Regions from separate parts of the Homo sapiens genome. Here regions 2 and 3 are each linked to region 1. The links come from fine-mapping of genetic effects on gene expression. A gene starts in region 1. Each other region holds a variant in brackets. All regions are shown on one strand. Distances are between the middles of the regions. Region 1 holds the start of CD38 (CD38 molecule). Region 2 overlaps PROM1 (prominin 1). Region 3 has its middle 35 kb from the start of BST1.

Region 1 (5,230 bases):
TTGCAGTGCTTTCCTTCCTTTGGTCAGTTACACAAATAAAAAATCTTGGCATCATCTTTGACTCATCTCTTTCTTGCAAATGCTACATCCAATTCATCAGCAAATCCTGCTGCTGCTACCTTCAAACTCTATTCAGAATCCATCTTTTTTTTTCTTTGCCACCTTCATTACTGCTACTACAGCCATTGTAACTGTTCTCCATCCTTATCCTCCTACAATTTATTCTTAATACCAAAGCCAGATTGATCCTTTAAAATAATATGCCAGATCAAGTCATTTGGTGACTTGTATGGGTAAAAATAAAATGCACACGAATGGGTTAAAAATAAAATCCAAAAACAGGCACATAGACCAATGAAACAGAATAGAGATCTCAGAAATAAGACTCACATCTACAACCATCTGATCTTTGACAGACCTGACAAAAACAAGCAATGGGGAAAGGATTCCCTATTTAATAAATGGTGCTGGGAAAACTGGCTAGCTATACGCAGAAAATTGAAACTGGATCCCTTCCTTACACCTTTTTCAAAAATTAACTCAAGATGGATTAAAGATTTAAAATGTAAAACCCAAAACTATAAAAACCCTAGAAGAAAATCTAGGCAATACCATTCAGGACATAGGCATGGGCAAAGATTTCATAATGAAAATGTCAAAAGCAATTCCAACAAAAGCGAAAATGACAAATGGGATCCAATTAAACTCAGGAACTTCTGCACACCGAAAGAAACTATAATCAGGGTGAACAGACAACCTACAGCATGGGAGAACATTTTCAAAATCTATCCATCTGACAAAGGTCTAATATCCAGAATCTACAAGGAACTTAAACTAATTTATAAGAAATAAACAACCCCATTAAAAAGTGGGCAAAGGACATGAACAGATATTTCTCAAAAGAAGACATTTATATAGCCAACAAACATATGAAAAAAAGCTCAACATCATTGATCATTAGAAAAATGCAAACCAAAACCACAATGAAATATCATCTCATGCCAGTCAGAATGGTGATCATTAAAAAGTCAATAAACAACAGATGCTGGTGAGGTTGTGGAGAAATAGGAACACTTACACTGTTGATGGGAGTGTAAATTAGTTCAACCATTGTGGAAGACAGTATGGGGATTCCTCAAAGATCTAGAACCAGAAATACCATTTGACCCAGCAATCTCATTACTGGGTATATACCCAAAGGAATATAAATCATTCTGTTATAAAGATACATGCATGCATATGTTCATTGTAGCACTATTCACAATAGCAATGACATGGAATCAACCCAAATGCCCATCAATGACAGACTGGATAAAGACAATGTGGTACATATACACCAGGGAATACTGTGCAGCCACAAAAAGGAACGAGATCATGTCCTTTGCAGGGACATGGATGGAGCTGGAAGCCATTATCCTCAGCAAACTAACACAGGAACAGAAAACCAAGCACTGCATGTTCTCACTTATAAGTGGGAGCTGAACAATGAACACAGGGAGGGGAACAACACACACTGGGGCCTGTTGGGGAGAGTGGAGGGAGGGAGAGCATCAGAAAGAATAGCTAAAACATGAGGGGCTTAATACCTAAGCAATGGATTGATAGGTGCAGCAAACCACCATGGCACACATTTACCTATGTAACAACTCTGCACGTCCTGTACATGTATCCCAGAACTTAAAACAAAATAAAAAAGATAAAAAATAAATAAAACACACAGTCCAAAAAGTCATCCTGTCTTACAGAGCTATGGGTGATCTGGTCTCCTGCTACTTTCCGAACTTCTGTTCTGTTTCCCTCAACCCTCTAGCCTAACTACAATTGGCCTCCTTGCTGCTCTGGAACAGGCCAAGAGCTTTTCTGCCTCAGAGTCTTTGCACCTGCCATTTCCTCTGCTTGGGAAATGTTTGCCCCAAGGGAGTTGGGTGACTTGATCGCTCACATTACTTAGGTCTCTGCTTGAATGTCACAGATGTTCTCTTAATAAAGAAGAGGCAAGAAAAGCCACTTTATTATTTATTAAACTCCCGCATAGAGTGCAGTATTATTACTGTGTGCCAGACCCTGCTTCAAACACATTCCATGGACTATAAAATTGCATCTCTGAGCAGCTCCTAGAGCTGGTAGTAACAACTTACATTTACTGGGTGATTACCATGTGCCAGGTATTGTGCTAAACACGTTGTAGATATTAACTCACTTAATCCTCGTAACAATCCCATGAAGTAGGTACTGCTACTATCCCGGCTTTACATCTGAAGTACAGAGAGGTTAAGTAACTTGCCCCATGTCATCCAGCAAGAACTAAATTTGAACCCAGAGCTTAGCCACTGATGCCTCTTGAGAGAAGGAGTCAGACTTAAGTTGAGTCTTTAAAGGTGGTTGACCAGGCATTTGTCAGAGTTAAGAAAGAGAGGTAGGACATCCTTTTCCAGGCAGAGGGCATTGTGTGCACACACGTATAGAAGCAGGCAGCCCACCCTCATGCTTTCCAGGAAGCAAATGTGGCTCAGGTGTAAAGTGCCCGGTTGATGAAGGGAGTTAGCGGAGGGAGTATAAGGATGTACTGTCTGCCCCCTTAGGACACCTGCAGAGGATTAAGGTGGCTGTTTCTCCCTGGAGGTGGAGTGGGTGGGTCACTGCACAGGAGCCTATAGTTGTTGGTCTTTTAAACTCTTATTGGTGTAACCAGCCACGGAACTCTGAGGCAAGGGGTTGGGGGTGGGAAGGGAAACAGAGAAAAGGCAAGTGAAACAGAAGGGGAGGTGCAGTTTCAGAACCCAGCCAGCCTCTCTCTTGCTGCCTAGCCTCCTGCCGGCCTCATCTTCGCCCAGCCAACCCCGCCTGGAGCCCTATGGCCAACTGCGAGTTCAGCCCGGTGTCCGGGGACAAACCCTGCTGCCGGCTCTCTAGGAGAGCCCAACTCTGTCTTGGCGTCAGTATCCTGGTCCTGATCCTCGTCGTGGTGCTCGCGGTGGTCGTCCCGAGGTGGCGCCAGCAGTGGAGCGGTCCGGGCACCACCAAGCGCTTTCCCGAGACCGTCCTGGCGCGATGCGTCAAGTACACTGAAATTCATCCTGAGATGAGGTGGGTTGGCGACTAAGGCGCACCGGTGGGCACTGCGGGGACAGCAGGGCCCCGCGCGCAGGGAAGCCGCCCGGATCGCCCGGAACCGGGCATCTTCCGTGGCGGGTCAGCCGAGAGCCCGCCGGGTGGTGCTGAGTAGGGAGTCCCGGGCTCGGGGCTCCGCGGGCCGCTTTCAGGAGCAGCTGGCCTTGGCACCGAGCGTGCCCGCGGGAGGCGGGGGGGGGCGCTGCTCGGTGGCTCTGCTGCGTAGCCGGTGAACACTTGGCACCGATGCCCGCCTTCTGGGCAAGGTGCCCTGAGCCCAGCCCCTCGCCGGGCTGCAGCCCACCCTCGGCGCGCTCAGCCCGCTTCACCGCTTCAGGGACGGAATAGAACTCGCAGATGCAGGGTGTCGCTGACATTTTCAACTTTTTCTGCGGTTTCCGCCCGCTGTCTCTGACCCGAAAGTGCCCCCGGACGGTTACAGAGGACACTTAAGTGGTTTGCAAAGCCTGTGGTAGGGGAGGAGGGTGTAGAAGGGCCAAACCACGGAACTTAGTTTTATTCATTTATATAAAGCAGCACTCCGATTCTTTTTGCGCGGCCTGAAATGCATGTGACCAGAGAAGTAATTAACAAAACAATGTCAACTTCTAAAACCGAGACATTACTTAGATGATAAGGCGCAGCAACTCGGTGAATCTGTACAAACCTTGGAAAAAAAACACATTAGTCTATGGGACCTTCCAGTTTTCTCATGCTCCTTTCCAGCTACTAACCTCTCCTAAAGGGAACAACCACTTTTTGGATTTGATTCCCAGGCCTCGCTTTCACCGGGAAATTATCGTTGCTTGTAAAACAGAAGAAGCCGGGAAGGCAGGCAGGGGGAGCTGCTACTTTACACTCTGTGCTTTGGGATAGCAAAATCCCGCATTTAAGCAATCCGAGGAAACGAGCAAATAGACCTCCCTCGCCTCTCCGAGCACACTCAACAGTTCCGGTTGCAAAATGTTTGCCTCCTGGGCTTCCCAGCGTCCCGTTAGTTGTTCTATTTACACATAATTAGATACTTAATGGAGAGAGAAACTAGAAGTTGAGGCGTTCCTCCAGGCTGTATTGTAAAGTATGAAGTGAAATCCAAAATGAAATGGTAATGTTAGAAAGCAACCTCATTAAAAAAAAAAAAAGTAACACTGGTCTTGAAGATCTTTCAATGTGAGTACATAAAGATCTATCTCATTTCTTTTGACAGCCCATAGTATTTCATAAACTAGATGTAACCATTTCCTATTGACAGGAAATTAGCTTGTTTCCAATTTTTCAATCCCATTCATTCATCCAACAAGTATCTGTTGAGCACCCACTATGTTCCAGACAGTGATCTAGCTACTGATGACACAAGAGTGAATGACGAAGTTCTCACTCATGAAATTTTCACCTTAGTTGGGAGAAACATGATGCAATGAAAATCTTCATACATACATTGTGTGTACATATGGGAGTATTTCTGTAGGATAGATTTCTAGTGATGAAACTGCTGAGTAAAAGGGAGAATTATGCATATTTTAAGTTTTGATTTTTCCAAATTCCAGGTATTCCATATATACTCCAAAATAGTTGTGCCATTTTACTCTCCCATCATCAGTCTATCAGAGGGGATGCTTTCCCACAATCTCTTGAATGCTGAATATTTTCAACTTTTTTACTTAAGAGAAAAAAGAGCATCTAATTGTTCCCTCAGTATCAGTGAGTCTAAGCATCTTGTATATGTTTATTTGCCATTTATATTTTTTTCTGTGATTTTCCTGTCCAGATACTTGATACTTTCTATTGAGCTGCTTATTTATTTCTTATGGGAGATTTTTATATATTTTAGATAATATTCTCTCTCTCACACACACACACACACACACACACACACACACACACACACACACACACATACAGTCTTACAGCCACATCCCTGAAATCTTGACCTTGTGAACATGTTTTACTGGCAGCACTCTGGACTCGATCATTGCCTTGAGACTATTTCTTTTTTGATATTCTTTGGAAAGACTAACAATGACAGTTTTATTTTCAAACCCAACAAATCCTGGCATGGAAATGTTTGCTCTTGATTCTGCTTTTAAAAAAATAAAGAATTATTTTCTCTCTTTCTTTC
Region 2 (5,230 bases), 280 kb after region 1:
GTCCTCAGCTGATTTCCCTCATCACTAAATCCCTGCAACTCATAACTCACTTGTGACATTTAATGATCCACTGGCTTACATGTTCCCTGGACTATTTATTCTACGTAAATACATTTGTCTACTCTGCTAGAGAGACTGTTCATTCCTTAAAGCAGAAGATGTTCTCTCTGCCACACAAATCCTGTAACTCCTAACCCAGTGCTGTCCACCTGTAGCAATTGCTTAGTAAAACTTGCATGCCCCAAATGAGACATCTAAATGAGATCTAAGAACCTAGCATTCTCCTAGGCAAGACTATTTTCCTTGGAGAAACAAAATGTGGATTCATAATCACAGTACCATTCTTGATAAATTAGGCTGGTCATGGTGGCTTACGTCTACAGTTCCAGCTACTCAGGAGGCTGAGGCAGGAGGATCACTTGTGTGCTGAGATAACCTCCCAGGCAAAAATTCCCCTTGTCCTCTTTCTGGCTTCGTTATCCTACCAGCTCTCATTTGGCTGCAGGGTCTTAAATGAGCAGGCTTCTCCTATCTGGGCCTTTGTGTTCTCATCTACAAAATGGAAGTAGGGAATTGAATAATTATTTCTGATCGGAAGATCTCCCCAAACTCACAAATTCCCTAGAACCAAATAGCCTAATACCAATTCACGGTAAACAGCCTAGGGAAAGGGTTTTCGTCTGAAGAGAGGCTGTCACGGAATCAATAATAAAAAGACTAAGACTCTGCTACATAGCTAGGCAGAGGCATTTCACAGACAAACCCCTTAGAAAGGAAACAGATGTGAAAACGGTCAACCTTGACGGTAATGAGAAATATATATTTTTAAAAATGCAATGTCATAGCCTTTACAATTCCATTTTCTAAATACCCAACACATTACTAGTGGTGGCATAAACATCACAGACCTTCTGGTGGATTGATAATTCTTTCAAAAACTTGGAAATTAATCGTATCTTTTGGCTAAGAATGTTCTGGGAAAAGAATCCTAAACACAAACAAAAACATTTCCTGCATATCTAACCCTAGTAGAAATCTGGAAGTCAAAACAGGGAGGGGTGAGTGAGTCTGCAAGTGACTCTGTCCATATTCTCCATGAAGAGTAAGGTCTCTAGCTGGCAGAGGAGAGTTCAGGGTAGAGATTTGAGAAGAGAAGAGGACGTGTGCAAGCAGGGGGTTAGGAAAGAGGATTGACTGAGAAACAGGTCAGAGCTGTCAGGAGTACGAGCATCCTCGTGGGGGCTGTGGATATTCATTTAAGAGAGTCCAGCTGGCACAGTCGCAATTGTTTCTAGGAGCAGTCGGCCGCTTGGGTGTAGGCCTGAGGAAGTGGAGTAACCAGAAAACGCTGCAACCAGATTTAGGATTCCACCAAACAACAACCATGGTGGCAGAGGAGGGCAAGAGGATCTTTATAACGCAGGACTGTGGGTGCTCACAAAGGGAAGAGGAGGGGGCCCTGAGAGGGTACACAAGAGTGTATCCGCTCTTGCACGCAACAATTATGGGGTACTTGCTGCGTTGTGGGCACCACTCCAGATTCTGGGGCTATTGTATGGAGGAGTGAACAAAATCAATAGTGTTCCCCTCTTCAAGATGTTTAGAGTCTATCAAGTGAGATAAACAAATATTTATTGTAATACCAGAATAAATGCTATAAAGAAAAATGAAGCAAGGTGAGGGGTGTTGGGGTGGAAGACGATCTGTCCCTCTGAGATGACATTTGAGCAAAGGCTGGAAAGAAACAAGCCATGAAAAAAAAAAAATCGAAAGAAGAAAAAAAAGAAACGAGCCATGCAGAAGAGTCGTCCAGGCAAAGGGAATAGGCAGAGAAGCAAAGGGTCTGAGGCTTAGGAGCGTTTGGCATGTTCCAGGGAGTCGGCTGGCCTAGCTATTACAGGGGTTTGGGGCTACTACTGCAAGCTGCTGCCCATTCTCTCTGCCCATTAGGAGGCCCTGGCCATGGTCCAGGGGACTGGCAGCCTCAGCTGGGAGAGGGCAGTCCTGGTGGTCAGAAGGGGACAGATTTGAAATACACTCTCACACGAGAGCATGCGATTTCCATGCGAGCAAATTAGTCTTCAGGAAGACTGGCCTGCTCCTGTTTTTGCAATACAACGCTTAGGAAGCTGTCATTTCTGAAGTCAGGGAGCTATTTACTTGAATTTCAGAAGGAGATACTCATTTCTTCTCAGTTTTATTTCTATGCACAAGTTATATTTGGAATGGCTCTTTAAAGAAACACAATTCCTTGCCAGGCAGGCATCCGGGTAGTCAGTCATTTGTACACAGATCTGGCACATAAAACTCAGCATGTCACAATCAATCACCCTTCTGGAAGCCTGCTGTCCAAATCTCATTAGGCTGAGCTTCTGGGTCAGCCAGTTTCCAAGAGGATATAAAAACGTATACAACCTCCTCTTTCCCAGGATGCAGTCAGGTTCGAAGAGAGCCTTCATCTCAATTAGTAAACATGTCCTAATTTCATCAGTGACAGCATCAGATTGAAACATTTCAAATCATAATTCGGGAACTTAGAGACTCCTACATGAAGTAATCAACGCTAAGGAAAAACCAAATGTGAACAGTCACATCACCACCTTCTGGCTCCCAGGGTGAGCTAAGAAGCTTCTTCTCCACAGGCTTCTTCAACAGAATCTTTGTCTCTCCAGCCATTTTCTGTAAACTAATCACCACTCTCCTTGCAAGGCTAAAGAAACTTCTTTCATCCAGGCTGATGGGGAAAACAGATCTTCTCTATTTCCCTTCTCTAGTTTTAAATTATCGACTCTTCTTATTTTAATCCCACTCAAGAAAGATTAGGATTTTTATTTCTATTTATATCTACCTAGGTTTACAGAGATACATATAGAATTACGATAACATAAATAAGAAGAAAGAAAAAGAAAGAAAAGCAAGCCCGGGGACCTAAGAGGAAACAGGAGCTCCATAGAGTCAGATGCTCTCTGACTGATGGTTCCATCCCCCACAGCATTCATTCCTTACCTGTTTGCTGAACAAGGAACATACGAAGCAAAAGGTACAGCAGAGTCCTATACCTGTGGCGAAGGGTGATTCACTGTTTCAAAACTTCCCAGTAGCAGCCACCTGAAACTGTCCAGGCCAATTGTTCAGGAAAAA[A/G]AGACTAGAAAGAAGGTTTTTTTCCAAGGGCTCTCACAAAGAGGAAACTGGGACATAATCAACAAATGCCTCAACAACTGTAATGGAAGGAACAGGTTTCACTGTGCAGTTCCAGAAAACAGTGAGGAGAGAGTGAAGGGGCCTTATGAATCGCTCTAGGCATCCGGCTCACAGCTCAGGACAAAGCCCAGTGGACTTCAGAACACAACCACTGAAGGCTTTAACATTTTTTACTGAACTAACTATAACAACTCATACTTTTTAAAAAATCACTGCTTTTCAAAAAGATAAAATTCATTCAATATTATTAGCCAAATGAGTAAAGAGGGGAATCAAAACTCAAATGATAAACTATCAGAAATGAAAAATGATGCCAACGCAGGTGGATCACCTGAGGTCAGGAGTTCAAGACCAGCCTGGACAACATGGTAAAACCCCATCTCTACAGAAATACAAAAATTAGCCAGGCGTGGTGATGCATGCCTGTAATCCCAGCTACTGAGGAGGCTGAGGCAGGAGAATTGCCTGAACCCAGGAGGCAGAGGTTGCAGCGAGCCAAGATCACGCCACTGCACTCTAGCCTGGGCGACAGAATAAGACTCCATCTCCGGGAAAAAAAAAAAAAAATGAGAACACCGCATTTAAAAACTTAGAGGAGGAAGCCAAAACTGTCCTCAGGAGTAATTTTACAGACTTAAATGCATTTATTAGGAAATAAGCATAAAAATAAAATAATTTACCTCAAAAGGCTAAAAAAAAGTAAATAAGCTTCCAAAAATAGAAGAATTACTAAAAATAAACTAAACAAAACAAAGATAATTTTTCAGTTAAAAGGCACATTAGGAGGCATAAAGCCCAGCTCTTAACTCTGGAGCCTAGTCATGTTGCAGCAGGGAAGACACACCTGGAAAACAAGCAGTACAGTGTCCAAAAAGGTACCTTGGGAATGGGCTAAACTCCACTGAGTAATACCTGGACAGAACCTTTATATCAAATGTTCAGAATCACTCCACTTGTTTTTCCTTTCTAGACATCTAGGAAGTACTGGAACTTACAAAGCATTTTCATGGAATGCATTGTTCAACCCTCCTAAATGTATTATGTAATAGCCTAGTCTAAGAGGATAATGAAAAAAACAAGATTCTGAAATCAGTCAGATATGAGTTCAAATTCCTGCTCTGCCCACTCACAAGCTATGTGACCCTTGGCTAAGTGAGTTACCCTCTCCGAGCCTCCATTTCCATGTACATAAAATAGAAATGTCCACCCCACAAGACAGTAGACAAAATTCAGTGAGCTGTTTCTGCATTTTTCTGATGTATAGGTAAACTGGTTCAACATTTATGGAGTGCCATTAGGTGATATCTATCAAAAGTGCAAACTGGCCAGGCTCAGAAGCTCACATCTATAATCCCAGCACTTTGGGAGGCCAAGGCAGGAGGATGGCTTGAGCCCAGGAGTTCGAGACCAGCCTGGGCAACATGGGGAGATCCTGTCTCTCTAAAAAATAAAAAAAATTAGTCGGGTGGGGTGGTGCATGCCTGTGTTCCAGCTACTGGAGAGGCTAAGGTGGGAGGATCGCCTAAGCCCAGGAGGTGGAGGCTGCAGTGAGCTACGATTGTGTCACTGCAGTCCAGCCTCAGTGAAAAGTCACTTAGTGCAAATTCATGAAATTATAAACTGACCTGGCAATTCTATTTCTAGGAGTTTACCCCATATATATACTTGCATATTTGTGAAATAACTAAAATAATTTATAACAATGTATATAACAGCAAAATGGTTGAAATTAATTGATAAATAATAAACTACCTCACAGCAATTAAAAAAAATGGTAGTAAGACTGTTAGGGGTAGATCTAAAAAAATAAGGATGAGAGGGCTCTCTAGGTGCTAATATAAAATAATAATCAAGCTGTATGTTTAAAAAGAAAGCAAGGTGCCAAGTAATATATACAGTATTTTTTCACTGATGGAGACAAGACCATATACACATGTTGGCTTCTACATGCATAAAATAGGTCTGAAGAGACACAGACACACACAAACGCTGATAACAATGGTTGCCTATAAAGGGAGGCGGGGGGCTG
Region 3 (5,230 bases), 40 kb before region 1:
CCCTGGATCCTTCTGTTGACCTCTCTCCCTGCAAAAAAGCAAAGAATTCCCTAACAGGGCCCATCTTCATGGTGTCAGCATTGTTTGGGTCCTTGCCTAACTTCACCCTGGGACTGTGGCTTCTTTGCAGACTCACTCATCTTTGCAGCCCTAGCCTAGCCCTGCTTGGATGAAGTAGACCTTCCACGTGTGAATGAACTAAGTTTAATAGAGGAAAACAGAGGGTGGGGGATTCTTTAGCTTTCTTTTGTTGGAGGAGGCCAGGGAGGGTACAAGGGAAGCTTAATAACAAGGTGTGGCATGCTTTTCTGTATTTATGGCATACTTTCATAAAACACTTGAAGTGTGTGATATTGCTAGGGTGTGTGAGGGGAGCCGTGAGGGAAGATGACAAGCAGCATAAGACTTTTGGGTACTTAGAGAAAGAGAAAAGGACCCAACCAACCAACTTCCAATTCATAATTCATGGTTTGTCTCAGGACCGTCTGGCTCCTTAGGCCAATCCCATGGGAGCCCCAGCCAAGGGGCGTCTCTTAGACCAAGCTTGGAAAACACAGTGTCTGCTGCCTTCATGTTGCCTGGGTTACCAGGCGACTTAGCCACTCACAGCACAGTGACCTGCGACTCAATTAGAGAAATGCCATTTTGAGTTCCATAAGAAAAATAAGGCTTTATTTTTAAAAACTAAACATAACTTCACTTTTTTCCCGAATATAAGAGTAATAATGGCTCTTTACTTGAAAAAAATCTACACAATACAGAAAAATTAGGAAGAAGGCAAATCTCATCTGTCATACTGCACGCAGAGTAGCAGACATTTTTCTATGTGTTTTTATGCACATATTTATATTTATAGACCCAAGAGGCTATGTGGGACATTAGGAGTGCGACCCAGAGCAGAACCATACAACCGCCGGTTCTAGCCTTTGTACAAGGTAAATCATGGGTTTCAAACATATCATTGCCTCCTGACTGATCTCTCTGCTTCTGCTTGGTTTCTCCTTCAGCCTAACTTCCACAATGCTGCCAGAGCAATGTCCTACGCTAGGGTCCTGAGTGCATCGTCCTCTTGCTCAAAATCAGCAATGGTTTCCTACCCTTGGCAAGACAAATTTCAAATTTTAAAATCTGCTCTTCAAGAAGCCGGGCGCAGTGGCTCCTGCCTATAATTCCAGCACTTTGTGAGGCCAAGGTGGGCAGATCACTTGAGGTCAGGAGCCCTGGACAACATGGTGAAACCCTGTATGTACTAAAAATACAAAAATTAGCTGGGCGTGGTGGCACGTGCCTGTAATCCCAGGTACTCTGAAGGTTGAGGCAGGAGAACTGCTTGAACCAAGGACACAGAGGTTGCAGTGAGCCTAGATTGCTCCACTGCACTCCAGCCTGGGTGATAGAGTGAGACTCTGTCTCCAAAAAAAAAAAAAAATCTGCGATTCAAGATCTTTCCATTTGCCCCTAAACTGCCTTACTAGGTCTGTGTCCCAGGAGACCCCACTGCACTCTCCATGAACCTTCTCTCAGTTCCGTATTCTCAACATAAGCCTTTGGATCTGGTACCTTTGCTCACCTCCTCCTCGAAGCCTTACTTAGTTCCAGATCCATTTGTTTTTATGTCTCTCTCTCTTGAGGACAGCAACTTTACCTCTTTGTCTTTGTGTCTGTCATAATGCTTTACCCTGACCAGCCATGACCTAGTCAGCATTTGATCAGATTGGGTGAGAACCTTGGGTTTGGGGAATCAAGACAAAGGAAATGGGGAGGCAGCCTAACATTGTGGCCAAGAGCATGGACTCTGGCACCTAACAGGTTGGCCCACATCCTACCTTCAGCACTTGCTCGCTGTGTAGCCTTGGGCAACTCACTTACCTTACCTGAGCTGCATCACCGTGTGTGTAAGTAGGGATTATAAGTACTCATAATTCAATGAGCGAATGTGCATAAAGAACCCAGAACAGTGCCAGGAGTATAGTAGATCAGCCCTGTATAAGTGTTATTTGCTAGTGTTATTGTTACTACTACTAGAGTTGTTTGATAGCTGTCTAAACACCATCTGCAATACAGCACTCTCTGCAGATCAGAAGTTACTGTGCACTGGGCACTGTGTGAAGTATTTTCATAAATGGCCCCTTTCAATCCTCACTCGACCCCATAGGATCAATTCTCTTATTATCCTATTTTACAGATGAGAAAACATAGACATAGAAAGCTTTTCTTACTTGGCCAAGGTCACCTCTCTTGGCCTCGGTTCCTCCATGGTCTGGGCAGCAAGGGGGCAGCAGGGAGCCCTGGCAAAAGCAGCTAAGAAAACCAGCCTCGTGTGTCTTCAACAAACAGGTCCCAGCACCAGCTCCATGCCTGGCACACTTAATGGGTACTTAATGCTCTTCTACCAAGTGAATGAACAATGCTAAGCATTTGACCAAAAGAGAAATGCACATGGAAGACCCCTGAGCACAAGGACTGGGTGGGCACATGAAGAACTGAGTTCTCTTTCCTCTCCTGTCGTAGGTACCAGGTACCTTACACTTGGCTGTATTCCCTCTAGCACGATAGACTTGGTAACAAGGTACTTTCTGAACCTGAACAGGAAACTGTGGGAACCATGATGGGGAAGATACTGACTGTCAGAGAGTCCAAAGATGTAAATGCCTTCCACTCCCACAGCAAGGAAGCCG[A/G]AATCTCCAGAGGCTCTGGCAAGAGTTGAGTCAATTGCATGCCTGCCTAGTCCAGCTCCGTCCACATGAATGCTCTCCACAAGCTTCAGAGGAAACAGGATAAAATGGACTCCCAAATATTTAGGGTGGTGAAAATACTCTGCATGATACTAGAATTGTGGATACAGGTGATTATATATGTGTCCAAACCTACAGAAGGTACAACACCAAGGGTGAACCCTCAGGTAAACTACAGAGGCTGGGTGACCATGATGTTTCAATGTCGGTTCATTAGTTGTGACAAATGCACCACTCCACCACTCTGGTGGGGATGCTGCCAGTGGGGGAGGCTATGTATGTGTGGGGACAGAGCGTATGTGGGAAGCTCTGTACTTTCTGCTCAAATTTGCTGTGAACCTAAAACTGCTCTAAACATTAAAGCCTATTCAAAAAAATGAAAGCCTAATTTGAAAAGGAATTTCAGACACTTGGGAAAAAGAATAATGACGTCTATAAGTCATTCTTTGATAAGAGAGTCGGTCAGTCTGGTGTGTCTAGTAAGGTAGCAGAGGGACATTCACAAAGACCGGAGAATACAAAGATGTTAAACAGGGTGAGGAGTCTATGATGTTGGTCAGTATAAAAGGAGAAAAAGATCCTAAAAACATTCCTAAATATTGTTTGATTTAAAAATATATGTTGGAAGGCAAGAGAGTTTGATAAAAAAATAAAAATAAAAATAAAAAACCTTGATGGGAAGTGGGAATGACCACACGTTAGCCAGCTGATAGCTTACCTGTTTGAAGTTCAGCTTCCACACGATTGTTACAGACGGAACTGTGTTCCCTCAAATTCATAGTTCGTTATGGCCACCCTGGTAAGCTAACACAACAATGAAAATTTCCAAAGTAAAGACTAGAAGCAGGCATGTGCCAAGTGAACACTAGCTTTTTTTATTTCTCCTGCTGTGAAAATTGAGGTTTGCCAAAGGTGCCAAATGAACATGGCTGATTGAGAAGTAATCCCAGTTCCACTAACCTGAGAGACAGCCCAGGCAAGCGGACCTAGCTCCTAATGCTCATTTCCATTTCAGTCTTTCTGAAGTTTCCCAGGGTGAGAAAGTGGAACTCAGGACAATGAATCATCATTGGAGACTCTGCAGTTGCTAGAACTTAATTCACAGGCATTTGAAACCCAGAACTCAGCCTTACTCTTCTCAGGAGACTTTTGGCACCAAAGAGAAGGGCAAATTGAAAGCCCATGCTGGAGAACAGGGCACAGCTATTGCTGAGACTGGGAGCTTGTTTTTAAAGACCTGGCAAGGGTTTCAAACACCCACATGCATAACCAATGAAGCAGGTTGGAAAATCTGAACTATGCTAATTTCACCATAATTACTCATTACTTGAAGTCTTATGTATTTGTGTTTTCTTGGTAGTCTCTTTAAAACATGTTTCAATATGAAACGTATATGTATTAAATCACTCCGCTTAGAATTTTAGGAATATAGTTTTGTTTTTCCCCCTAAAAGATGTAGAATGCAGCAGGTTCTCTAAAGCACATGTATTCTTTGTTACGTGATTTGGTTCTTTGGAACTTCTTTTATCATGTAGCTATTAAAGGGTAGCTGTCAGAATTACCCAAACTCTTCACTGAAATGACTTACTTATTTGAGAAAAATGCATGTTAAGAAGCCAAACCGTGTGTGTGTGTGTGTGTGTGTGTGTGTGTGTGTGTGTGTATTTCTCCCCTGCACAAAAGTAGAAGGGTTTTCATTTGACTTGTGCCAGCTGCACCTTCATGACTTTGCTATAGGACATGTGACACAGTAACTCTAAGATGGTGCTTGTAAAATTTTAAAATAGTTAACATACAGTGACAAGCTCTCAGGGGAACACATTAAACTCGATTAAATTTTGTAGGGTAAAAAGATGTGTACAGAAATATAATCAGAGTGAAGTCATTGTTCACCATTGCTGCTAGTAATAAAATTTGGTGGTAGGAGGGGGAAGGAGAAAGGGAGGGAGGGAAGTCGGTGAGAGAGAGAAAAGGAGAGGGAGACATTGACAGAGAGAGAGACAGACAGACAGAGAAACAGAGAGAGACAGAGAAAGAGAGGGAAGAAGGGAGAGAGAGAGAGATAAGGATAGAGAGAGACAGGGAGAGAGTGTATCTCCTGATCCTCACTGGCTGATAACTAAATTAGTTGGGGGCAGGGGGGACTGAATCTCGTTCTGTCACCGAGGCTGGAGTGCAGTGGCACCGTCTCGTCTCACTGCAACGTCTGCCTCCCAGGTTCAAGTGATTCTCATGCCTCGGCCTCCCTAGCAGCTGGGACTACAGGCACACGCCACTATGCCTGGCTAATTTTTTGTATTCTTTTTGCTAGAGACGGGGTTTTGCCATGTTGACCAGGCTGGTCTCAAACTTCTAACCACAGTGATCTGCCCGCCTTGGGTTCCCAAAGTGCTAGGATTATAGGCATGAGCCACCATGTCGGGCCTAAATTAGTAGTTATTATCTACTTTCATTTGTGGGATGAAGATGAAACAGAGTCCTTTGGGATTGTGCAC

Evidence for each region. PIP is the estimated chance that this variant, and not a neighbour inherited with it, causes the effect. A credible set is the group of variants that fine-mapping cannot tell apart.
Region 2: its variant is the best candidate, but not a certain one, in a credible set for the expression of CD38 in gastroesophageal junction (GTEx, PIP 0.79).
Region 3: its variant is the best candidate, but not a certain one, in a credible set for the expression of CD38 in subcutaneous fat (GTEx, PIP 0.85).

What each region holds. Positions count from the first base shown.
Region 1 is chr4:15,775,561-15,780,790 of GRCh38, forward strand. It overlaps CD38 (CD38 molecule), which reads left to right and starts at 2,768. Exons shown (of 8, transcript NM_001775.4): 1 at 2,768-3,087. The coding sequence starts at 2,855. RefSeq lists enhancers at 2,553-3,195, 2,607-3,106 and silencers at 3,237-3,286, 3,477-3,526.
Region 2 is chr4:16,054,898-16,060,127 of GRCh38, forward strand. All of the region lies in intron 2 of PROM1 (prominin 1), which reads right to left. Among named protein-coding and RNA genes, the nearest start is that of PROM1, 27 kb to the right of the region's middle. The variant A/G (reference allele first, on the strand shown) is at 3,142.
Region 3 is chr4:15,735,197-15,740,426 of GRCh38, forward strand. It overlaps a transcript of BST1 not described here. Among named protein-coding and RNA genes, the nearest start is that of BST1, 35 kb to the left of the region's middle. The variant A/G (reference allele first, on the strand shown) is at 2,679.